Regions from separate parts of the Homo sapiens genome. Here all the other regions are reported to be linked to region 2. Evidence: microRNA targets listed by miRTarBase, many of them from high-throughput screens and not tested one by one. Region 2 holds a microRNA gene; each other region holds the end of a gene's coding sequence. Distances are between the middles of the regions.

Evidence for each region. Region 2 holds the annotated microRNA hsa-miR-3664-3p (UCUCAGGAGUAAAGACAGAGUU, at 3,453-3,474, shown strand). A microRNA usually pairs through its seed, bases 2 to 8, with sites in the 3' UTR of a target mRNA and lowers its output. Matches are read on the target gene's strand: a 7mer-m8 pairs with bases 2 to 8, a 7mer-A1 pairs with bases 2 to 7 and ends in A, and an 8mer does both.
Region 1: the mRNA of LPXN is a reported target of hsa-miR-3664-3p. The part of its 3' UTR that is shown has no 7-base or 8-base seed match.
Region 3: miRTarBase lists ZCCHC4 as a target of hsa-miR-3664-3p. Seed matches in the 3' UTR shown: 7mer-m8 at 1,907-1,913.

The regions. Positions count from the first base shown.
Region 1 is chr11:58,520,166-58,528,429 of GRCh38, reverse strand. LPXN (leupaxin) reads left to right here. Exons shown (of 9, transcript NM_004811.3): 8 at 239-387; 9 at 707-1,559. The coding sequence ends at 976. Among named protein-coding and RNA genes, the nearest start is that of OR5B21, 16 kb to the right of the region's middle. RefSeq lists a silencer at 3,540-3,834.
Region 2 is chr11:70,867,499-70,875,762 of GRCh38, reverse strand. MIR3664 (microRNA 3664) reads left to right here and starts at 3,395; the gene lies at 3,395-3,493. The region is part of intron 11 of SHANK2 (SH3 and multiple ankyrin repeat domains 2); the gene reads left to right.
Region 3 is chr4:25,367,649-25,375,775 of GRCh38, forward strand. ZCCHC4 (zinc finger CCHC-type containing 4) reads left to right here. Exons shown (of 13, transcript NM_024936.3): 13 at 1,381-2,735. The coding sequence ends at 1,516. Among named protein-coding and RNA genes, the nearest start is that of ANAPC4, 5.6 kb to the right of the region's middle.

The DNA of each region.
Region 1 (8,264 bases), 12 Mb from region 2:
CACTGAGGAGCAATAGCCCCTAACACTTATTAAATGTTTACTATGAACCAGACACAATGCCAAAACACTTCCTCTGCATTATCTCATTTATTTCTTACAACTACCCTTTGAATTAGGTAACAGTAATCATCCTATTTTGAATATGAGGACACTGAGATTGAAAGGGCCTCCTCTCAGTCTCCAGTGTAGCTTTCAGGGCTCAACCTGCAACAGTGAATTCCTGATTTTATCTCTCCAGGCTTTCATGAGAAGGACAAGAAGCCATATTGCCGAAAGGATTTCTTAGCCATGTTCTCACCCAAGTGTGGTGGCTGCAATCGCCCAGTGTTGGAAAACTACCTTTCAGCCATGGACACTGTCTGGCACCCAGAGTGCTTTGTTTGTGGGGTCTGTATAATCACTTTTCTTTCGGACTTAGGGAAAGTCAAGGGTTCTCCTCTCTGAGAGGAAGAGCTGCAGTTAGTGAAAGGGTTCACAGTCCTGAATGAGGAATGGATGTGCGCATCCTAAAGGAGAAACGAGATACAGATCCATTTGCTTGTCTGTTTTGCAAGCGGGAAATCTAGTCTCCATTTGTCAAGAACCTGAGGGAAATTCCTGTAGCTGGCAGGTAACTGTCAGGAATTTCAAGGCTGAAAATTTTACTTTGCTGACATTTTACCTCTTGACATTTGCATTCTTTTTCTCTCTCTTCTCTCTACCCCAGGACTGCTTCACCAGTTTTTCTACTGGCTCCTTCTTTGAACTGGATGGACGTCCATTCTGTGAGCTCCATTACCATCACCGCCGGGGAACGCTCTGCCATGGGTGTGGGCAGCCCATCACTGGCCGTTGTATCAGTGCCATGGGGTACAAGTTCCATCCTGAGCACTTTGTGTGTGCTTTCTGCCTGACACAGTTGTCGAAGGGCATTTTCAGGGAGCAGAATGACAAGACCTATTGTCAACCTTGCTTCAATAAGCTCTTCCCACTGTAATGCCAACTGATCCATAGCCTCTTCAGATTCCTTATAAAATTTAAACCAAGAGAGGAGAGGAAAGGGTAAATTTTCTGTTACTGACCTTCTGCTTAATAGTCTTATAGAAAAAGGAAAGGTGATGAGCAAATAAAGGAACTTCTAGACTTTACATGACTAGGCTGATAATCTTATTTTTTAGGCTTCTATACAGTTAATTCTATAAATTCTCTTTCTCCCTCTCTTCTCCAATCAAGCACTTGGAGTTAGATCTAGGTCCTTCTATCTCGTCCCTCTACAGATGTATTTTCCACTTGCATAATTCATGCCAACACTGGTTTTCTTAGGTTTCTCCATTTTCACCTCTAGTGATGGCCCTACTCATATCTTCTCTAATTTGGTCCTGATACTTGTTTCTTTTCACGTTTTCCCATTTCCCTGTGGCTCACTGTCTTACAATCACTGCTGTGGAATCATGATACCACTTTTAGCTCTTTGCATCTTCCTTCAGTGTATTTTTGTTTTTCAAGAGGAAGTAGATTTTAACTGGACAACTTTGAGTACTGACATCATTGATAAATAAACTGGCTTGTGGTTTCAATAACTCATTGTCATATTTGTTTGGGAGATAAACTTTCTGCTTCCCGTGTTATATACTAGGCACTATGTACAATTAAGATTATATCATACCTCGTTTCCTTCCATCCAATGCACACTTTAAAATTTTTAATCAGAAGAAATTAAAAGGAGGGTCTCCTTTTCACTAATTTTTCTTTTTTTTCTTTTTAGTTTGGTCCCATAACCATTTTATTTTCTAGACTTAGATGATTGAATCATTTTTAAAAATGACAAAGCTTCTTAAAATTGTTTTTATTACTTTGTTTACAGGAGGAGAAACCCTGGCTCTCCATTAGAAACCTTACAAATTCATTTCTTTTTCCTTTTTTTTTTTTTCTGAGATGGAGTTTCGCTCTTGTTGCCCAGGTTGGAGTGGAATGGCGCGATCTCGGCTGACCGCAACCTCCACCTCCTGGGTTCAAGCAATTCTCCTGCCTCAGCCTCCTGAGTAGCTGGAATTACAGGCATGCGCCACCACACCAGGCTAATTTTTCTATTTTTAGTAGAGATGGGGTTTCTCCACGTTGGTCAGGCTGGTCTCAAACTCCCGACCTCAGGTGATCCACCCACCTCGACCTCCCAAAGTGTTGGGATTACAGGCGTGAGCCACTGCGCCCAGCCACAAATTCATTTCTAAAGTAAAAAATGAAACACAATTTCACATTTGCCTCCTGAAGACAAATGAGATGGCTGTTCTTAGAGCATCTCTGAAGAAAGATGCTATAAATAAAGCTCAAATGATTATTATCTAGAATTAGGAAAGCCAAGACTCAAAGAAAAATTCCTCTTAATCATTTGTTCATCTCAAAATATTATAAGTAAATGTTTAGAAAAGCTTGTCAGGTTATCAGAGAATCTGATTTTCTTATGTCCTGTCAGTTTACTGTCCTACAGTTTACTTTTTATAAAAGTAAGCTTCACAAGGACTAATCTTTCTGCAAAAGGGATATTGAGAAGATCAGTACAATATCTTTCTTCCCGTGGTCTTAAAAATAATTGTGTGATTATTTGTTATAACAAAAACCAGACTCTTAGAATCCTTGATTCTGAGATAAGTTACTGGCGAAAACTCCTTCACTGGAGGTATTTTTAAAAATAGGACAAAATTTGATGTCTTTAGATTGATAGAGGAATAGTACTACTTGGGAGAGCTGAAATGGATTAAATGTTTCTTGCCAAACTTTATTATATCTATGTCCTTTGTTGGAATGGATAATAAGGGGGTTGTGAGAGTTACAAGGAATTGGCAACAGTTAATTCTATAAAATAGGAACTCCAAATGCATGTAAGATATGTGGGAGGCCACACAGATACGGAACCATCTGGCCTCTATCCTGTTTGGCTGTCTGAGAGCGCCAGACTATGCAGAACACACATTCAACTTTTAAACATCCTCTTTGCAATGTCTTCACTCAACGATGTCACACGCAGGTGTTAATATGGCAATGTTCTTGGTTGCCTTGGCAATTTGACAAAATAAACTTGGAGTTTTAGCCCTTAAAAAGAAATGTACAGGTGCTAAAACTTTTTTAAAAAGGATTAGCTATTTTGAGATTCAATAGAATTTAACTATTTTTAAATGTCAAAGAAAATCCAGAGTTCACTAAGATGTAATTAAGAAGTGAAAACACTTTCTTCCCACATTGAACGGAAGTGGTTTTATTTGCTCAAAAAGAGATACTGACTTCAGGACCAGTGTTTTAGCAATAAGGAAACTACTCACAAGTAAAAAGTTCTGCTTTTTAAAAACCCTGGAAATGCCATTACTAAAATTGATCACGTACTTATTTACTTTTGGTTTTGAGTAACTTCTAGGATGTTTAAAAAATAAAACCCACCCTCACAGGACAGGGATTTTCCACCAGTGAATATAAACATATAGAAAGGAATATGCTCTAGAGTTGGCACTGTATTCTCAAAGGGGAGTCCCTCAATTAGTTTGGTCAGTTTTTCTTTGAAGTAAATTTAGTCTCTTCCAAGGTAATACTTTGATAAAGACAACAATTATTTTTCCATCCAAGTTCTATCACACACTCTTCTTGGAGTTGTAGGATGGCTGCCAGCGCATGCTTCTTGTTTCATAACCAGTAGGGGGAGCAAGAGTGCTTTTATCGAGCATTTGCAAGCAAAAGTTCTGGGATTCATCCTCACTGGTCTAGCCTAGGTCACATACCAGTAATTTTTGCTGGGGGAATGGATTCTGCAGCTTGGCTTAAACCAAACTGAATTATTTCCAAAGTTACAAGCAGGACTAAGTTTCCCGAAAGCACAAGGGCTTTGTGGAGGAGATGTGAATACTTTAAAAGCTGGATATTGGTAAGAAGCGGGAAGAGGACAATGAATCTTGAATTCGTGTGTTCAAAAGTGAAAATATTGGAGTTTCTGAGTTTCAAGGTAATGTAGAAGGTAAGCAAGCAGGCATTGTCAGTATCCTGAGGGATCATGTCCAAGAACTTTACAGAACCCAAAGGCAGAGGAGAGAGCCAGGAATGCTGGTGTCCTGAGGAACATGCGGCAGTGGCACTGCTCTTCCTGGGCCCCTAGGGGCGCACCACTGAGAAGCATCAAAAGCACCTTCAGTTTGGCAGTCTGGAAAAGGAGATCTTGCAGCTGAAATCAAGGTGAGAAAGAGTAGCAGCTTCCTTTAGAGGCGAGTGTCTTAGGCATAAGCACGTCCTCAATAAGGCAGTGGTGGCAGCCACTGAAATATGACACTGAAAAAGAGATTGCCTGTCCCCAAAATATTGTGGAGGTTGTGTTACTAGGTACCATCAGTGCAGCACATTAAGTGCTGGGAACACAGAGCTCAGTGGGGAAATGGAAATCTCTTGGGATCCACAGGATAAAAAAGAAAGAAATCTCAGGTAAAAGCTGGTGCTTGGGTTGTACTTGTTGCAAATTTATAACTTTGCCAGAAGGCAGTGTTGTCTCAAATTTATAAGAAAGGAGACAGTTTATGTAGGACATTCCCCTACCTTAGATATAGTCAGCGTATAGTGCCTAAATTGATTTTCCGTGGGGAGAAGTCTCCTAACTGTGTTTAGGTTCATAGACCATGGATTACGGACAATTGCATAAACTTCCTGGCACCCTGTTGAGAGCCATCCATCTTCCCTTCCTATTTTGGATATCATTAAATCACAATAAATACTGTATTATGGGAATAACATTTTTCCTGGGATAAGTACCTCCATTCTAGCGAGAGATATCTCAGATCACAGGTGTTACTGGAAAAACTCCTAAAGCTGAAAATGAACAGACCAAGGAATCAAAGAAGGCTTTACTTTCTCTAAACTTTAACTTAGAGAATTTGATTTTGGATTTTAATGTTTTTGGACTTTGATATGCTATGTTGAATAATATTATTGGATATAATTGAGGATGGGACGTGAAATGAAAGGGGAGTGAATTTCTGAGCTGTTTTTCCCCACAGTCTAGTTTCTCCACAAAGAACTGCATCTCCCATTCTTGGTCCATGTGTTTAGGCAAGGCTGACTTTAACCTCAGCCTCAGAAATAGGTACAGTCCCAGGTCTGACCAATAAAAGTACTTTGTTCTTCTGAAGGAAGGTGATTGGATCAGGGATAGACATGTGACCTCAGCAAAGCCAATGACCTTTACTAGATTTATTCAGAAAGAACATTCCCATTCGTTGGAATTCTAGTTGTGCGGATAATAAAAACCCATTGCTGCTGATAAATATTTTTATCATCACTTGGGGGAGGCTGTCTGAGAAAGAGGCCAGCACAGTGGAACGTAGAACCAAGTAATGGAGAGGCTGTGTTTTCTTTTTTTGAGCCACTCAGTTCTACCATAGCAGCATCTTAACCATAGACTAGGAAATTATGTGAGCAAATAAATTCTCTTTTTTGTTTACATTGAACAAATAAACTCAGTGTTGGTACAGAACGTATATTGTATATCGTCATGAAAAACTAATACACAAAAATAGTGTTTGATCACTTCTTGATGCTTTTTACACCAGAGCACAGTGAAACTCTGTAGTTTAAGGTTAAGTCATCCTGTGGATAGCTCGCATATTTAGAGTACAAGCTTCTTGCTCCTGTCCAATTTTGCAGTATCTGTCACTATTACAAAGGGGAAGAAAAAGGTTGTGAGGGTGTTGTCATCCTCTAAGATTTAAAATTGTTTTGGAAATGATGGTATTCATGCTACTTTGTTTAATTATAATCCAGAGAGAACTATTACGTATTTGATATTACTGCAATACTCTTTATAGTGAAAACTAGTTTTAAAACATCCTGATACCCCACTAGCAAACAAAAAAGGAAGAAAAATTAGACGATTATAAGAGAAATCAATTTACATTTATCCTGTGTCTTAGTCTGCGCAGTTGCCAAAACAAAATACCATAAATGGGGTGTCTTAAGCCACAGAAATTTATTTTCTCATAGATCTGGAGATGAGAAGTCTCAGATTAAGGTCTGCAGGTTTGAATTCTGTTGAGGGCTCTTTTCTTGGCTTGCATATAGCTGCCTTCTTGCTTTGTCCTCACAGGGTGAAAAGAGGGAGAGAGAGAGAGACCACAAGAGATCTGGTGTCTCTTCTTGTAAGGAAACCAATCTTATCAGATCAGGGCCCAACCCTTATGATTTCGTTTAATCTTAATTACTTCTTTACTTAAAATACAGCCACATTGGGGGTTAGGCCTTCAACATATTTTGGAACGACACATTCAGTCCATTACATCCTGAAAGGTGCTACTTAAAGAAAATTGGGTTTATATGAAGTTAAGGAGGAAAAAGAAGACATTTATAGTGATTCTGAGAGGGGACCTTAGGGACACTTTTCAATGCTTTGGAAGTTTGAAGTGGTTATTTTCATTATGTTCAATAACACTTAGAAAATAGGACTTTCTGTCTCTAGGTGCTCTTGCATTTTCAGACATGAGTTAGAAAATATTGGAGGCTCAAAAATAAAATGAAGAACTTGGAGATTTTCCTAAGATAATCTGAAAATTTTGAAATGGAGGAAAAGTAGGACGGAAGAAAGTTACAGGATATATAAGATAATTTTTGAGTTGGGCAAGGTGAAATTTTCAGAGCTTTCAGTAAAGGAGGCAAGATGGGCCGTATAACACACTATCTGAGGAAAAGAAAGACAGAGTGGGGGGAATTGTCACTCAGTTCCCTTACACAAACTACCTGGTGAAGCTACTACTTACCCTAGATTGTCTCACAATTTGGGGTTTTTCTAGAAGTGGATGCTGAGACTAGGACTTGTGTATAGTAGTCTATTTAGGAGGCAATCTCTAGATGTACAGCTAGAAGAGCCAAAAGTGAGATATTTTCTATATTCTACAGGGATTACGCCTGTAATCCCAGCACTTAGGGAGGCCGAGGTGGGCAGATCACGAGGTCAGGAGATCGAGACCATCTTGACCAACACAGTGAAACCCCGTCTCTACTAAAATACAAAAAATTAGCCGGGTGTGGTGGTGTGCAGCCTGTAGTCCCAGCTACTCAGGAGGCTGAGGCAGAGGAATCGCTTGAACCCGGGAGGAGGAGGTTGCAGTGAGCCAAGATAGCGCCACTGCACTCCAGCCTGGGCATCAGAGTGAGACTCCGTCTAAAAAAAAAAAAAACCCAAAAAAACAAACAAACAAAAAAGAAAAGGCAAGGAAGCCAAATCAGTGTGCATTAATGAGCAGATTACTGTCTTGGGAAGTTGGAACTCAATACTCAGAGGACCTCTGGGATTCATTGTAGAGTACAAGAGGTGGTCCACCAACCCTTACACCCCACTTTGTCTTCCTTGTACTCAAGCTGCATGTACTCTGAGGCCAAAGAAAGCCCTTTTTCTAAATCACAGGCACTTTGAGTAGGAGCAGCAGTGTGTACCTAGCAGTAAGTGCCAACAGATAGGGGTGGGGAACTAATGCCATTTGTTGGGTAAAGTTATCGAGGGGTAAGGTTAAAAGGAAGAAAATCATACCAAAGGACTTCACATTACCGGTAATCACAAGACCGAATTTGTGGTAAGCCATGCATTTGCAAAGTTTTATAATATTCCCAGCTCTATGAAGCTTAATGTATTTCATCTAAGGTAGTATTAGTAGAGGGGATGACAGAAGGGAGAAAGTGGGCAAGGATTATTATTTCCATTTACCTGTGGAAGAAGCAGTTGATTACATGAATAGGTCAAGGTGACTTGATTTAGAAACAGAACTAAAGTTTGTTAATTCCTTGTCTGGGATGCTTTCTTTTAGGCTGTATATCAACAATGTAAAGTGCCCATGAGGTGAATTTTCAAGGGACAAGCAAGGGCACTAGGGCATCAAAGTGATCTGCTCTAGGCTACACTGTTTTGGTTATAGTGGCAAGAATAGCAGCCATGGCTTCAGGCAAACCAAAATTTAAAAGTTGAGTTTACCACTTGCAAACTGTAAGTGAATTTACCGCTTGTAAACCTTGGTTAAACCACTTATCTTCTACAAATTTAGGTTTCATGATATGTTAAACATGGGTAATAATATCCACGTGGGTTTGTTGTGGGGATTAACTGAGATAATACGTGAGAAAGGGCTTTGTAAACTGCCAAGTACCATACATAAAAGGCATTAACAAAATAGTCCAAGAGATATGTGAGGAAGTCAACACAGCATCCATTCCTAGCATTTCCATGGAGACCATGAAACCATAGCAGGCTTTTAGTTGTTTTTGTATGATTT
Region 2 (8,264 bases):
CCACTTCAGCCCCCCAAGTAGCTGGGACCACAGGTATGCGTCACCACACCCAGCTAATTTTTATATTTTTGTAGAGACGGGGCTTTCACTGTGTTTCCCAGGCTGGTCTCCTAGGGTCAAGTGATCCACTTGCCTTGGCCTCCCAAAGTGTTGGGATTGCAGGCGTGAGTCACCATGCCCAGCTCCCAGACATGCAATATTTGTTGTTGTTGTTGTTGTTGTTGTTGTTGTTGTTGTTTGAGACGGAGTCTCACTCTGTCTCCCAGGCTGGAGTGCAGTGGCGCAATCTCGGCTCACTGCAACCTCCACTCCCGGGTTCACGCCTTTCTCCTGCCTCAGCCTCCTGAGTAGCTGGGACTACAGGCGCCTGCCACCACGCCTGGCTAATTTTTTTTTTGTATTTTTAGTAGAGACGGGGTTTCACCAAACATGCAATATTAATGCTTTATCATCATGTTCCGAAAGCAGAGCTCTACTGGGGGCGGAGTGAGTGACGCTGTCTGCCCCAGGTACACGCAACAGGAGGGCACTTCTATTGCTTCATCTGGAGAGAATTCCAAATAACAATAAAGCCAGCTAAATGTCCCTTCCCTTTTAATGATCACCATGTCCCCCCGTTCTAAAAATTGCCAATGATAAAATACTCCTTCCCCCAATCGTTGGTCTAAGATCTAAGCAATTGCTACAGTTGCTGTTGAAATGTATCTGTGAACTTCAAATTAGCATCTTTTTATAATGTATCCTTTAGTGAATACCATATTCTGTATGAACATTAACTTGGGGAAGCCTGTTATAGTTACATGTGGTTCTCAGGCATGAGTGGGCTTAGCTACAGCCTTTTGACTGGAGTGAAGTCTGCAGGGTCCGGAATGGCCTGGTCTCCATGCCCTGTGATCACCATTCCTGCTATTACACGGTAGATTTGAAACAGACATGAGGGCACAGTAACTATAAAGACAAAGTGAACTCGTGTTCCTTCAGTGCTGTCATTCTAGGTAGCCACTCGGAGTTTTCATCTGTGTTTAAAATTTGAAACGGCAGTGGATGTGAACTACAAGGTGGAATTTTTTTTTTTTTTTTTTTTTTTTAGTAAATGCAGATATGCAGATTTCAATGCTTACATGAACTATTTTATTGGATTTGGATAATACCTTTAAAATTGACATTCATTCTTTCAAAATATTTGGTTTTAAAACTGATGCACAAATCAATAAAATGATGGTTATTACATGACTGTTAATGAAAATAATTTTGCCATACAGAGGAAGGGCATGTGCCTGTAGTTCCAGCTTCTCAGGAGGCTGAGGCAGGAGGGTTGCTTGAGTTCAGGAGTTGTAGGCTACAGTGAGCTACGGCTGGGCCAGTGCACTCCAGTGTGTGTAACAGAGACCCTGTCTCAATAGATAGATTAGATAGATAGATAAATCATGGATAGATAGATAGATTACATATAAATAGATTAGATAGATTAGATAGATTAGATTAGATTAGATTGGATTAGATTAGATTAGAGGGATAGCTGGATGGGTGAATGGATAGATAGATGGAGTATATAGATATGGATGGATGGATGGACAGATTAGGTAGGTAGGTAGATAGATTAGATAGATATGGATAGATGGATATGGATAGATAGGATAGATTAGATAGATGGATTGATAGATAAGATGGATGGATGGATGAATGGATGGATCTATAGGTAGATGGATAGATGGCTAGATGGAGGAATTTCTGTGTACTGTTCACATGTTCTTTAGTCTGTTCAAAAATGTACTTTGCATTGGGATGCTGCCCCCAGCCTGCCTACATCATGCCTTTTTCCTGATGACACGTGTTCCTGTCACTGACGCCCGGGAGCTGTTTTTGAGGGCAGCTTGCCCAGCGTGCTAGTGACAGGAGGCTGGTGCTAGGAATGAAGGTTATTTGGTCTTCTCACTGGCATCACTGTTTGGTATTCTAATCCCATGAGATCGTTGTAAACAATAGCAAAGTTGTTCATGAACTGGCAAAAAAAAAAAAAATGGTAAATGGAGGAAGCAATGGCTGGCTGTGAGCAGGGGACGCACTCAATGTCCTTTGCAGAGTGAGCAGGGTGGATTAAGTGGTTGCTGCGGGCTCTGGCCTGTGCTGCCATCTTTGCAGTGACCCTGAAGAAGAGAACTGCCCCAGATGGGACTGTGGAACGTCTCTCCTGAAGAAGCCCCGAAAGGGTGTGTGGCAGCCGCTCCTCCTTCATGGGACCACTGCTAGAAGGTTAGGGATCCCAACTGCCTCACCTCTGGGCAGCCCCTCCTCCTCCACGGAACTGCTGTTGGAAGGTTAGGGATCCTGCCTGCCTCCCCTCTGCTGTTTCCCATTTCCTGTTTGCCTATTGAAAGTGTCTGGGGCCGTTGGGCCCTCCTGTCTCATGAATGGGTGTGATTCCTGGAAGCCCTGCAAGTCTCGACCTTGTCAGCTCTCACCTGCCCTCCTCTTCCTCATGGGTTTTGTCAGAGGATGTTAATGCCTTCCAAGCAAATTGTATCAAATGCATTTGAAAGGCAAAACTCATTGTTTAGTGTCTGAGAATAGCCTCTGAGTGCTGGGATGCCACGGTTGCTGTGGCAACGGCTCTTTGTTTTAGGGAACCACAAACATATCATTCTATAAACTGCAGGGCCCAAGCTGCAGGTTTCACCTTCCTGAGGGTCGCCACCCGGGAGGCAGAGGCACCAGGATGGACGTGGGAACTACCTCCGCTCTTCCTTTCTCACAGGTGCCCAGGATGTCTTTAGCTTTTGTAATGTTTGGGGCTGGGGGAGGTGGAGGTCATGAGTGTGGGGAGAGGGCAGACAGTGGATATGTGCTCCTCCTGCCCCGAGGAGCTGGGCTCTACAGGGCATCGTGGGGTCCCTTCCTCTTAGCAATCAATGCCATGTTCCACTGTGGCCCCAGACTCCAGCACCAAGCAAAGCAGCCCCCACGACCCTTAGGACAATGAGGGGTGAAAATTGCCACCCATCAGTTTTCAAGTGGTCAGTGTGGAGGAAAACAGGGACCCGCAGGTGGCCAGAACGTGGAGGAGATACACCAGGGAGCCGGAAGTAATGTGGTCCAGGGACCCATCTCTCATTCCACGTAGCTCACGGACCTGTGTGCCCCTGACTCTGGTCTGTGGGGGGCCCCTCTGTATGGGGGCCCCCTATTCCCTCCATCTGAGGGTCTCTCTTCCCTCCATCCAGCCACTTGGTCGTTTGCACCCACTGTGTCCACCAAGCGCTTCTAGGGAAGGGTCTTGTCCTTTTTTCTCCCCGTCCCGCCGAGCCTCCACCTCCAAGCCTGCATCCTACTTGTCTTTCCTCTTCATGCGTGTGGGGTTTTTTTCCCCTCCTTTCCACTGTGCACCCCGTCTCCTCTGTAAACTTGAAGGTAGGGAACTCTGTCTTCACTCATGAGTACCTTCCAACACGAGCTCTCAGGAGTAAAGACAGAGTTCCCTACCTTCAATGTGGATCTGCAAAAAGATCTGAAAAGCGAATGCCTTCTCCGTAGCTCGTTGGCAGTAGTACTTGACCTGAACTGATTTGAGGCTATTTATAGTTTTTATTTATCCTACTTAGCATGATTATTCATCCGTGCCCTGAAGGACTCCTCCCGCAATTGGCAATGGGACACTGCCCAGACCCACTGGCGGTGTGACGTAACAGGCCACACACGCATCATCCTACTGCTGCAGAAGCAGGCAGCGTGCACATGCCAAGGCACCTCTGGCTCTGGTGTTCAGGGATGTCGTCGTGGGGCTGTATTTGTTGAATGAACAAGAGTTCTTAATCCAAGAATAATGCTGGGTTTACCTTTCAAGTAGTTCAAAGGCTTCTTTCAAGACGGTGTTGTTATGGAGGATGGGATGCGTCTTGCCTTAAATATTAATAGAAATCGTATATGGAAATCTCAGACGGCTTCAAAGAGTCTCTCAGTCAAATTCAGATGGGGACTGTGCCTCTTTCCTGGCTGTCCCCTCCCAGCCCCCATGTGGCCACAGTTTGCTGTAAAACCCTGCAGGGCCCCTGAGTACCAGGTGTGTCTGGCCCGTGTTGCCTTTCAACATGAACTCTTTCTTGACTTTCTTCTCCATCAGGGATATGGTCATATTTATAATATTTGTCTCGACCTCACTTTCCTTTCTCTCCCTGCCCTGCTTGTTCAGCAAATGTGTTGGGGAATCCGCAGGGTCCCAGGCACAGCCTCTCCCTCCAGGGGCTCACAGGCTCCATGGCACACAGATGTGGCCTCAGCACGTGAAGGAGGCTCAGTGCCAGGCTATGTGGCTCATCTCAGAAGGTGGTGTGGCCCCAGGTTCTGTGGTTGCCCTTGCTCTGCTCTCTGCTCCCCACCCCCGCCCATCCTGCCCTGCTCCTATGGTGCCAGTGATCTTCGGGGCTGGTGGCTTGCAGAGCGCTCCCTGGACCTCCTCTTGGACCCTCAGACTCATCTCCTGCAGAGCCTGCCACCAGGCGAGCCCAGACCCCTGACTCCCCTTTGAAGTGTGTCCCTGCAAATGCATATGTTGAAGTATCACCCTGAGGATCTCAGAGTGTGACCTTGTTTAGAGGTAGGGTCTTTACAGAAGTCATCAGCTGAAAATGAGGTCATTAGATTGGGCCCTAATCCAGTAGGACTGATATTCTTATAAAAAGAGGAAATGGGACCGGGTGCAGTGGCTCATGCTTATAATCCCAGCACTTTGGGAGGCTGAGGCGGATGGATCACCTGAAGTCAGGAGTTCGAGACCAGCCTGGCCAACATGGTGAAACCCCGTCTCTACTAAAAATACAAAGATTAGCCGGGCGTGGTGGCGGGTGCCTGTAGTCCCAGCTACTTGGGTGGCTGAGGCAGGAGAATCACTTGAATCTGTGTGGGCGGAGGCTGCAGTGAGCCGAGATCGTGCCACTGCACTCCAGCCTGGGCGACACAGCAAGACTCCATCTCAAATAAATAAATGAATGAATGAATGAATGAAATGTGGCCACAGCCATGCACTCGGAGCAAACCTCACACAAAGATGAAGGCAGAGCTCTGGGTGATGCTTCTGTCAGTCAAGGAATGCCAAAGATTGCCTACAGGCCACTGGGAGCTGGAGAGACAGGCCTGGAACAGAGTCTCCCTGCAGTCCCCAGTGTGAACCCCCCCACTGCCAACACCTTGACCTCAGACTTCCAACCTCCAGAACCATGAGACAATTCATCCCTGTGGTTTCAGTCACCCAGGCTGTGGTTACAGGAGCTCCAGTGAACATACCCCATCTTTCCTGGCCAGCTGGCCCTTCCTCCTGGGCACCCCATCTCAGTTATGGCCCAGGAACTGAAAACCCAAAAACCTTCCTAGATCTTTCCTGGCGCTCACCTGCCCTTTTCCCATCTGTCCAGAACCAGCCCCTTCCACTTTTTCTATTTCCTGAATCTGCCCCTCCCTCCCCACTGGTTGGGCTCTCATTTTGGCCCAGATGGACTGCAGGAGGGGACGGCTCTGGGTCTCACCCCGGGTTCATTTCTCTCAGTCCCCTGGAACGAAGTGGAGCACACTCTGCCTGGGTGAGCCTCCAGCACTCAGATTCTGCTGCTGTGCTCATCCTCAAACCTCTTCCATAGTGCCCTGGGCCACACTCTCTTTATAAGGACACTAATTATTGGATTTAGGACCCTCCCTAATCCAGTATTACCTCGTCGCAACCTCACTGATCACATCTGCAAGGAGGCAATGACCCATTTCCAGTTAAGGCCCCATTCGTAGGTTCTGGGTGGACATGGATTTGGGGGGACACTCTTGTGGACTTTTGTGAGGGTTTCTGGGTGTGTGAGAAGGCAGAGCCTGGGGAGCTTCAGGCAGAGGGGAGGCATTCACATAATTGGTGGTGAGGTCCCTGCACTGACCCAGCGGCGACTGAGCACCCAGTGCGGCAGTAAGTGACCACAGTGTCAGTTCTCATCCCATCTTCCAACAACACCACCATGGACTCCCCGTCGAGCCCCCTGTCTGGGGGAGGACAATCAAGGAGATGATGGGGACATGCCAAGATGACACGGTGGTCACCGAGCCCAGGGTGCCCAACCCAAGGAAGTATCTGCTGGTTATCAGGTTTCTAGCCCAGGACACAGAGCAGACAGAGTGCTGTGGACGGTCAGGAGCTCCATACCCGAGCCTGGCTTGGTGGAGAGGCCATAGGCAGCAAGGTGGGACAGACAGCCTGCCATGAACCAACTGGTCTGCACAACTTTGCCGTGAAATATGAAAGCCTCCTACAGCACAGGCTGAGATTGGAAGCATTAATCACTCTGGTATGGGATGTGTGGAGTTCTGTTGGTCCCAGTGGGTTTAATAACGTGCCGATCGGTGCATCCCAAGCATTCTGTGGCCTGTGGACCGATACATTGTCCTCCCTCTGAAACCTGCTGGTCTGGAGGCCTCTAGGACAGATTGTCGGGATCTATGGTGTATGAGTTTGCTCCAGCTGCCGTCATAAAGCACCACAGACAGGGAGGCTTACACAAGTCATTTATCGTCTCACCGTTTTGGAGGCTGGAAGGCTGAGATCAAGGGGTCTCTGGACTGGTTCCTCCGGAGACCTCTCTCCTTGGCTTGTAGACTTTGCCTTCTCCCTGTATCCTCATGGGGTCATCCCTCTGTATGTCTGTGTCCTGATCTCTTCTTGTAAGGACGCCAGTTGGATTGGATTTAGGACCTGCCCCATCTGGCCTCACTTTAATTTAGTTGCCTCTTTAAAGCCCATCTCCCTATACAGTCGCACACATGCTGATATCCTGGGGGTGAAGCCTGCGTCACATGAATTTTGCAGGTGACACAGTTCAGCCTCTAGCACTCAGCGCCCACCTGGATGTGGCTTCTAACTGCAGGACGCCCTCCCCCAACATCCTCTGGACTTTGGCACCCTGGGTGAGAATTGGGCAGGTTTGTGGAAGAGAATGGGTGAGGATGAGGAGGCCGCATGTTGTGTCCAAACAGGGCTTTCCGTGCCAGAGCCCTTTCCCGGATGGGACTTAGGACTGGCCGTGGCAGCTCCAGTGACTGTGCTCCCTGTGTGGGTGGGGCCCTGGGCTGCCCCCGTGGGGTGTGAGGCTGACTGTGTAAGATGTGGACATGGCCCAGCTCAGTCCATAGGCTGAGCCTGGACTCTGGAACCCACCTTCTTGGCTTGTGTCTTGACTCTGCCCTTCACAGGCTGTGTGACTTTGGACAAGTTACTTAACCTCTCTGTGCCACAGTTGCCTCCTCTGTATCACAGGGATAAATAATAGTCAATAGCCTCGTGCCCAGCTAGTAGCAGTGGTGGTAGAGGGACTCTTGACTGTTGTCATTGTTTATTATAGTATTATTTCCATTTTACACATGGAGAAACCGAGGCCTGGGAGTTTATCCAGCTTGACCAGGCTTATCATAGCAGGCACAGGTTATGACCCTGGGGTTGTCCAAGAGCAGATCACACCGCCCCATGTCCGTGGACAGGTGTCCGTATGCCGACCCCCTCAGCCTCTGTGTCTATGCGACCCACCTTCTTCACCTGCACCCTCTGGGCCAAGCCATTGAAAGTGAGAACGAGGGAGTCTTCCTCGAGAAAAGAAACTCTTCATTAGGCTTCATATTTGTGTCTTCAATTATGCTGTCAAATGCTAAGGAGTTTAGACACTTACTGCCAGCGCCGGGCCCTTGGTGACGGCGTACATTATTTGCATAATCAGCACGGGTGGACCCGCTGGTAATTCCACCCAATTATTTGCCCAGAATTGACACTGATCAATTTAGAGGGAGGCACAGTCAGTGATGGAATTAAGTGGTAGCAAACACACTGTCAGTACATGAAGTCCAGACAGAGGCAAACAGCCCAGAGATGGATGGGCGGGAGGCGGGGGCCGGCCGGTGCAGGAGCAGTGGAGGCGGTGGACCTGGGTCCTGTGTGCTGAACGCTGAAATGCTTCCTTGGAAACTTCACAGAGAGTCCTAGGCAATAAAGGTCAGCAGTGGAATATTGTCACAGAATAATGACTCTGTGCCGCTGGGTAAATGTTAAAGCTTTTATTGGGGTGAGACGTGGATGTCTGGCTGGCTCTGAATTCAGTGGGTAATGAATACAAATCTATAGCGTCGATTCTCAAGAGGGAACATGGCTGAGCTGACCCCACATTCACGAGCCGGTGGCCTGGGCAGACTTTTCTGGCTGGGGCAGCGAGGTTGTGAAGGCATCCCTGGCTCAGGCAGCTTTGGCCCGTCCT
Region 3 (8,127 bases), not on the chromosome of region 2:
ACTTTTTTGGTTTTAGTTTTCAATCCTACTCCTTCTGTAGACTGTTCTATTTTGAACTGATAAGGTATCCCTAGTCCATAGTGCAAAATCTAAATATGAAAAAATTTAAAGTTGTCAAGCAAAATTCTGCATAATAGTCATGTGGAACTAATAATAGCTAATACTTATTGAGTGATTATTATATGGTTAGCAGTTTGCATATATAAATAATTTAAAGTAGAGTATATAGTAGAGCACAGATCCTGGAATCAAGCTGGTTCTGCAAGTTCCTCATGGGGTGTTCATTGATTTCATAGCATTTTCACCTAAAAAAGTAGGGATAGAGAGGGGGTGACTATCCCCCTTATCTCTGTCTCCCAGCTCCTTGAAGTCAAAGATTATGCCCATTCATTTTTGTTTTCTCAACAGGTAACATATGCTGAGTAAACAAAAAGTGAGGCATAAATTGAACCCATTAGGGGATACATTGTTTATGAAGCTCTTTTCCCAGGTTTATTCCTGACAAGATCAAGAATAAGCTTTTCCTATGGAGAAGCTTATGAGAGGTGAACCTAACAATTGATATTGCTGGGTAATCAGGGGAGGAGTCCTGGTTTGGCATTGTTGTAGCTCTGGCCCCTTCCTTGGTTCTCAATATGTTGAGTGTCATGGCATGATTCTGCTAGCTTGGAGAAGTGAATGGATGGGCCAGTCATTTTCTCAGCTGCAGGTCGCCTGTAACTTAGTGTGGAGAACACCAGAAACAAAGAATCTGTTTTGTCTGGTGTGGTTCAGTGTTTTCAGAGGGTGAGTTCCAGCTTGTTTATTTTGAAGCTAATCTTCAAGATAAGGACCACAAAATGCTGATAACCCTGCGTGGCACTTGTCAGGACTTTTAGATCCGCTGAGGAAAGGAAAATCTGTACGACTTAGGAAACAGGCCCTTTCAAGGCTTCTCGGTTTTTTCCATTGTGCTGTTTCATTTTTCTGTCTCTGCTGACTGCCCCATGTATCAGCTCCTCTCCAAAAAAAACGGAATTCAAGGATTTGGAGATTGAAGTGCTGAGTTGAGCAATACAGATGTACAAAAAACTTTTTTAAAAAGTCCAATCTCACTAGCTTTGCATTTACCTCTGTGGTGTGTTTGCCCCGGACAGCTTGTTCTAAATCCATAGTAACCATCTTTTAAAGAATTTTTTTTTCTCAAACATTTTGCTTGGTTAGGCCTCTGACTCTTCCCTTGTTGTTATGGTTAGGAGACTGAGGATTTATGCTTGCAATACAGTAGATTCTTTCCCTTCTTCTATTTTCTTATTTGGTTAGCTAGTTAATTAAACTTCAACATAATTACATAATTCACTGTGCTCATTCTGTGAAATAATTTAGCACCTTGTTTTCCAGAGCTGTCAGAAAGCAGAAGCAAAGAAAAAGTAATAAGATGAAAATGGAGACCACGAAAGGACAATCCATGAATCATACATCTGCTACAAGGAGAAAGAAAAGGAGGGAAAGAGCCCATCAATATCTTGGCTCTTAAATGTCCAGTGACTGGAGAATAAGAAAGATTTATGGTCCAACCTTTGATGCCATTTTCTGAAAGTGCCACACTGGACTTAAATTCAGCTGCTTCCAGAGGTGTGCACCTTTCTGAGCTAGATAACAGGCAGGTGGCATTTGCTGGTTTACAGTCCCTTATCTGCCTCTCTGGAGACATGGGGAGTTGTTCCATCTTCAGCCAGTTTACTAGTTCTTTCAGCATTCATTTTTCCTCACTTTAAGTCTCTCCCAGTCACATTGTTCTATTTTTATGTTTTCATTTTTTTTGAGATGGAGTCTTGCTCTGTCTCCCAGGCTAGAGTGCAATGGCACAACCTCAGCTCACTGCAACCTCTGCCTCCCGGGTTCAAGCAATTCTCCTGCCTTAGCCTCCTGAGTAGCTGGAATTATAGGCACATGCCACCACGACTGGCTAATTTTTGTATTTTTAGTAGAGACGGGGTTTCACCATGTTGGCCAGGCTGGTCTCGAACTCCTGGCCTCAAGTGATTTGCCTGCCTTGGCCTCCCAAAGTGCTGGGATTACAGGCATGAGCCACCTCACCCAGCTCCGGTCACATTATTCTAGCCTTTTTATCCAAAAAATGGGCAGACCATTCTTTTGCAGAAGATGTCAGAAGAAAATGAAAGTGAAAACCTATGCAGTTTGTTTACCGTGAACATAAAAGTATGTTAATTTAAATAGGAAAATATTTTATGTTAAATATGAAACAATAGTTTAAACCCCACTTGAAAAGTATAGCGTACAATTATTTTTAGACTGAATTTGAAGATGATGGAAAGGGTTTTTACAAAGGCACTGTTTAGATATACAGATTATAATTATAATTACATTATTATTAAATATTTATTCTTCAAGTACTTTTTGCAGTTGTCCTCTGACGGTCTAGAATCACTTAAATGCTTGTTGAATGAGTGAGATGTTTAGAACTACGACTTGCTCTGTCATTCCAGTGTCGTTTAACCTATGCAGTAAGATTCTGTCTTTGTAAAAGTAGTTCGTAGCAGAAGCCAGGATAGTTTGGTAATTAAACGCCCAAACTAAACTCCTCATTCCTACCCTTAATATTTCCTGGCTGTATGATCTTGGCCAGGTCACTCTCTAAAAGCCCCGGTTTCTTCATTATTATCATTATTATAATGGGGAGAATAACAGCTATACCTGAGGTTTGTTTTGTGATTAAATTAAATGAGACCCAAGTGCTTGGCTCTCAGTTCTCCTCTGTCATTGGTGTGTTAGGTTAACAATGAAGATTGTTACTGGGTCTAATGGTAATTACCTTTTGGCCTGATAACAAAGCATTGAAGGCAGTAATTTGAACTCCCAGAACAAACAGTTCATCTCCCCGTTTCTGTGCTAGTTATTGTCTCCTTAAGACTGAATTGTTTTGAATGACTTATATTTGCATAATGACTTTTCTCTTGTTTCCAAACAACTGCTGTAGAGCAGATTTGAAGGCATCTTTGTTTGGGGTTAGGCAGAGCCCTGTAAGTAAGGGTGGAGGAACTGCACTCTATCTGGTATTTAAATTCCAGGTAAGTTAGGACTGATGCCTGGTGTAGAATGCTCAAGTGTGGCCCAGATCAGTGTGGCAGTGGTGTACATCAGTTGATGTCAAAAGATGAGTTATACCCCTGGACTTCATAAGCATCAGAAAGCTCTTCTCCCTTTTGTTACATGGAGGGCTATGATAGGAGGGGCACATTTGGAGGTGACTGGGTGAGATATGAAGTTTGTAAAACCGTTGTGAGAGTTCCCCTCTCTGATTCAAGCAAGGATAGGGACATTGCCTGACTTTATGGTGTTCACCATTCCATGATAAAATCTATTGAAATCTCCTCTGAAACTAAGACACCTGAGGGACTATGACTACTGAAAAATTGAGTTCTGAAGGCCAACAGTTATTCTCATCACTATATTGCCTTAATGTTAAGATACCATCAATTATAAAATACATCATTGATTTTATCATAGCTTTTCAGGGGGAGAAGAGAAATAATACTTCATTAATTAATTTTTAGATCATCTGATTTCAGAAATACTGAAATGCAAAAAAAAAAAAAATCTTAGAATTGAGGAAATAGTTATAATCAGGAATAATGTACTTATTTATTTTGAGACAGAGTCTTGCTTTGTTGGACAGGCTGGAATGCAGTGGTGGGATCTCTGCTCACCGCAACCTCTGCCTCCTGGGTTCAAGTGATTCTTGTGCCTCAGCCTCCCTGGTAGCTGGGATTATGGGTGTGTGCCACCACACCCGGCTAATTTTTATATTTTTGTAGAGACTGGGTTTCGCCATGTTGGCCAGGCGAGTCTCAAACTCCTCATCTCAGGTGATCTGCCCGCCTCAGCTTCCCAAAGTGCTGGGATTACAGACGTGAGCCACCACACCCAGCCAGGAATAATGTACTTTAAAACTTTATTACTGTCTTAGAAAGTTAAAAATAGGAAATTTGGTGATTTTACACTTATATTCAATTAATACTAATTTTAAGGACTTAATCTCTATTCCTTTTTCAGAGAATAAACTAATTGGTAGCCTGTAAAAATGTGTCTCTGGGAGGTAGAATGTGAAGCGGGATGAGGTCATTTGTTCTTAATAGAAATCTGAACATCTTAACATTAAGATACCTTCTCAAAATAGCAATAGAAGAAAATCCCTAAAATTTGACAGATAACATTTTCTAAGCTTTTTAAAAGGACATTTTTAATAAATACAGCTAAATTTCATTCTTCTTATATTATGAAATTTAATGAGAAACAAAGTCTTTTTGTAGGCTGGATTTCATGTTTTTTCCTAATTAGTCCAGTACCTAGACTAGTTTATCACTCCATATGCCCCATTCTTTTCATCCGATACTGTTCTTTCTGCTTGGAATATGTCCCTCCATGTGGCCACTCCGTTCTCTTTTGGGAATCTTCCACGAGTCCCTGATACTGAAACCTTCTTTGGCCCCTTGGTGTTTGATACCACATTTAAGGCCTTTCACATATTATTCTGTGATTATTTTTACTGATTTTATTTCCCTCAAAGATTTAGGTCTCTTAATGTCAGCACCCATTTCATCTGCTCTTGTGTATCTTGTGCCTTTTTGGTGCTCAATAAAAATTTGATGTAAGCATGGAATTTTCTAGAGGCTTTGAAGTGGTAGGCATGCCTGAAATACGGACTGGACCCACTCTATTATGTTTCTTCTAGGGACTGAAAAGGGAAACAGATTTGTATTAGGAGGCACTTAGAGTCAATATGAGGACCACCCTAACTGAAGTTTTAAATGTGGGGATGTGCTGCGTGAAGATTAGTAGCCTTGTAGCAGGATGAGCCGTGGACAAAACCCCACAGACACCAAGATAGTGAAGGAAGTAGCTTTTAATCAGTTGGAAGCATCGACAGTCTAGTGTCTTAAAATCCGAGTTTGTTGAGTGCACAATTTCTGTCCCTTTTAAGGGCTCACAACACTAAAGATTTTACATGACAGGGCCGTGATCGATTGAGCAATCTAGGGGGTATGTGACAGGGGCTGCATGCACCGGTAATCAGAGTGAAACAACAGAACGAGAAGTTTCACAATGTCCTTCCATACAATGTCTGGAATCTACGGATAACATCGGTTGCTAGGTCATGGGTTGAATTTTAACTATCAGGCTAAGGTCAGGCAGGCCCAGGCCTGGTTTTGGGTCTGGTGCCTGGCACCCGGCTGCCTGCCTTTGGTTTTGCTTCCTTGTTTCTTAAAACAGGTACTGAGCATAAAACAATATAGAACAATACGGGGGGGGATCTCTTTCTCTCTTCTCTCAGCTTTATCTGCAAGACCCCTTCAAAGTAATCTGCAAAATACTAGGCATCTGGGAGAAGTTTGACTAATCTTGAAATATAAAATCACAACCTACAAAGGGTCCTGGTCAGCTGCCACTGCCTTCACAATGTCCCTGTTGGTCTCTCCACTGGAGTAGTACATCTGTTGCCAGAGAAATAAAAATGTCAGTTTGTGTGTTGTTTTTATACTTCTTTTATGGTACTTAAATCATGCCTTGTATAAGAATGACTTTATATACTTGTTTAGCCCTGTACAGATTAGAAGCTCGTTGATGGCAGTGCCTGTGGACATCATTGTGTTTGCTTACTAGGCACATGCCTTTTCTACGGCGATAGAGATGACCAGCCGCATCACCTGTGACCTCAGTTAATGGGAAGCAGGCAGCCAGGCTAACACATTTCTTCACCATCTAGGTAGTAGGTGCTCATAAATACCAACTGAGTGAACGGAAATGCCATTTAATATACCGCTTTATGCCTCACACCTTAACTATACTATGGAAGAAGCAGATACACTTCGAGCTCTCTAGGTAGGACAGCTTCCACAAAATCTAAAGGAAAATCCAGTTTCACTTATTTGATGTGATTTTAGTTGGACCATGAGGACCTGGGCTGAAATTAAGGGTCAACTAAGAAGGTCATTGCAATAAAGTAAAGATAAGATCTCTGCTATTTGATTTCAGGCAATTTAGTATAAATGTTAACTCAGCAAGATGAGGCTATAATAGCACCAACATTGAGCAACAAGATCTCAGAGCCCTGAGAGGCTGAGTTTTATCCCAGTTGTCTTTGGTGGAACAGTTAGTTACAAGATCCCTGGTTTAACTGCTTCATACCACTGGATACTAGAAGAGGTGAAACAGCCGGTAATCTCTAAGATGGTAGGCCTGAATAGATGGGTCAGTTTCTTCATCTGCAAGTGTGGAGAGGAGGAGTGGGAGAACACTAGAGGAAGTCAGCCCAAATATTCCACATGCTTAAAGAAGACAGGCCAGGTGCGGTGGCTCACACCTGTAATCCCAGCACTTTGGGAGGCCAAGGGTTGGGGGGGGGTGTGAAGGGTGTGGATCACCTGAGGTCAGGAGTTCGAGACCAGCGTGGCCAACATGGTGAAACCCCGTTTCTACTAAAAATACAAAGCCGGGGATGGTGGCGGGTGCCTGTAATCCCAGTTAGTTACTCGGGGCAGGATAATCACTTGAACCCGGGAGGCAGAGGTTGCAGTGAGCCGAGATCACGCCATTGCACTCCAGCCTGGGCTACAAGAGTGAGACTGTCTCAAACAAACAAAAAAAAAACAGAGGAAAACAAAGGTTGCTGCCTGTTAACTTTACAGTTAATACATGAGCCAGGTAAATCAAGGAAAAATAAAAGCATCTCTAACCCTACCACCCAGAGATAATCACTATTATAACTTCCCTGTCTACTGTTCCAAAGATAGGTTCTTGCATAAATAGGCTTACAGACACATGCAAAAATTTCCCTCAAGAAAATGGAATTTTAAGTACATACTGTTTTATGACCCATGCTTTTTCATAAGTATACTGTGAACATCGATTTATGTCTGCATAATATTCTTCAGGATAGATATATTTTTTAAAAATCTATGATGGGACATCTAGGTTGTTTGCATTTTTTCACTTTCGTAAATAACCTTATAATGAACATGCTTAAGTAAATATTTATTTCTCCTGCCCTTGCCTCCTTAAAAAGCACTGATAGCCGATCCCTGAGCCTTCTTCCCTTTTTCTCTTTATTCTGCAGTATTTTCCTAAGGATGGGGGAGGCAAAAAACGGAGTAGGTAGAGCTAAAATCTTTATGGGGCAGTGGGAAAAAGAAAAGGCTGGAAACACGATGTGTTAATATTTCTTGTCTTACGGCTACTTTGGATCATTTCCAAGAACAATTCCTGCCCCTTACTGCCTACCAACACACATGAGGGTCTATAGCAAGCTTGTCTAACTCGCAGCCTGTGGCCCAGGAGGGCTTTGAATGCAGCCCAACACAAATTCATAAACTTTCTTAAAACATTGTGAGATTTTTTTTGTGATTTTTTTTTTTTAGCTCATCAGCTGTCATTACTGTTAATGTATTTAATGTGTAGCCCAAGACGATTCTAATGTGGGAAGACAAAAGATTGGACACCCCTGGTCTATAGCAGCATAAAACTCTGCTGTTTCCTGCCCACATCTGGAACTCCACACTTAGGCTGTTTCCTTTGCTGTAAGGCTTAGAAAATTTATATTCTGTGAAGACTTAATGTGCAGGTGGTTATACTCTGTCCTTTGCAGTACGGTGTTTATGCCTCTGGGAACAGTGATTTTCACGTGCTGTATGGGTGTTTGTATTCAGGTAAGTTCCAGGAAAATGGACATTCAATTTCCGTAAGAAGGTTAATGTGCATAGATACTAGACCCCCACCAGGTGATCCATTATAACTGCCCCAAAACACTAACACCTGAAAATGCATTTTGTGAAAAACAAAGGCAAATGCATTTTTACCTTAGAAATGTTGATTCTGGAAGAGTTGGGGGCACTTGGTAAGTTGTTTGTGGCAAAGGCAAGGGCTGCAAAGCCCGTGACAGGAAGCAGGGTAGGTATAAAGTCAAGGATTAAGAACAGTACTTGGCACAAAATAGTTACTTGATGCTGAATGAATTAGTCTCCCTCCGTCATCTACTTCCCAGGGGCTAGATCCAGACAGAGGTCAAGAAGATGGGGCCTGTTGAAAGTTAAAGGACCTGCCGTCTGTTTCTTCTTTGAACAAGTGAAA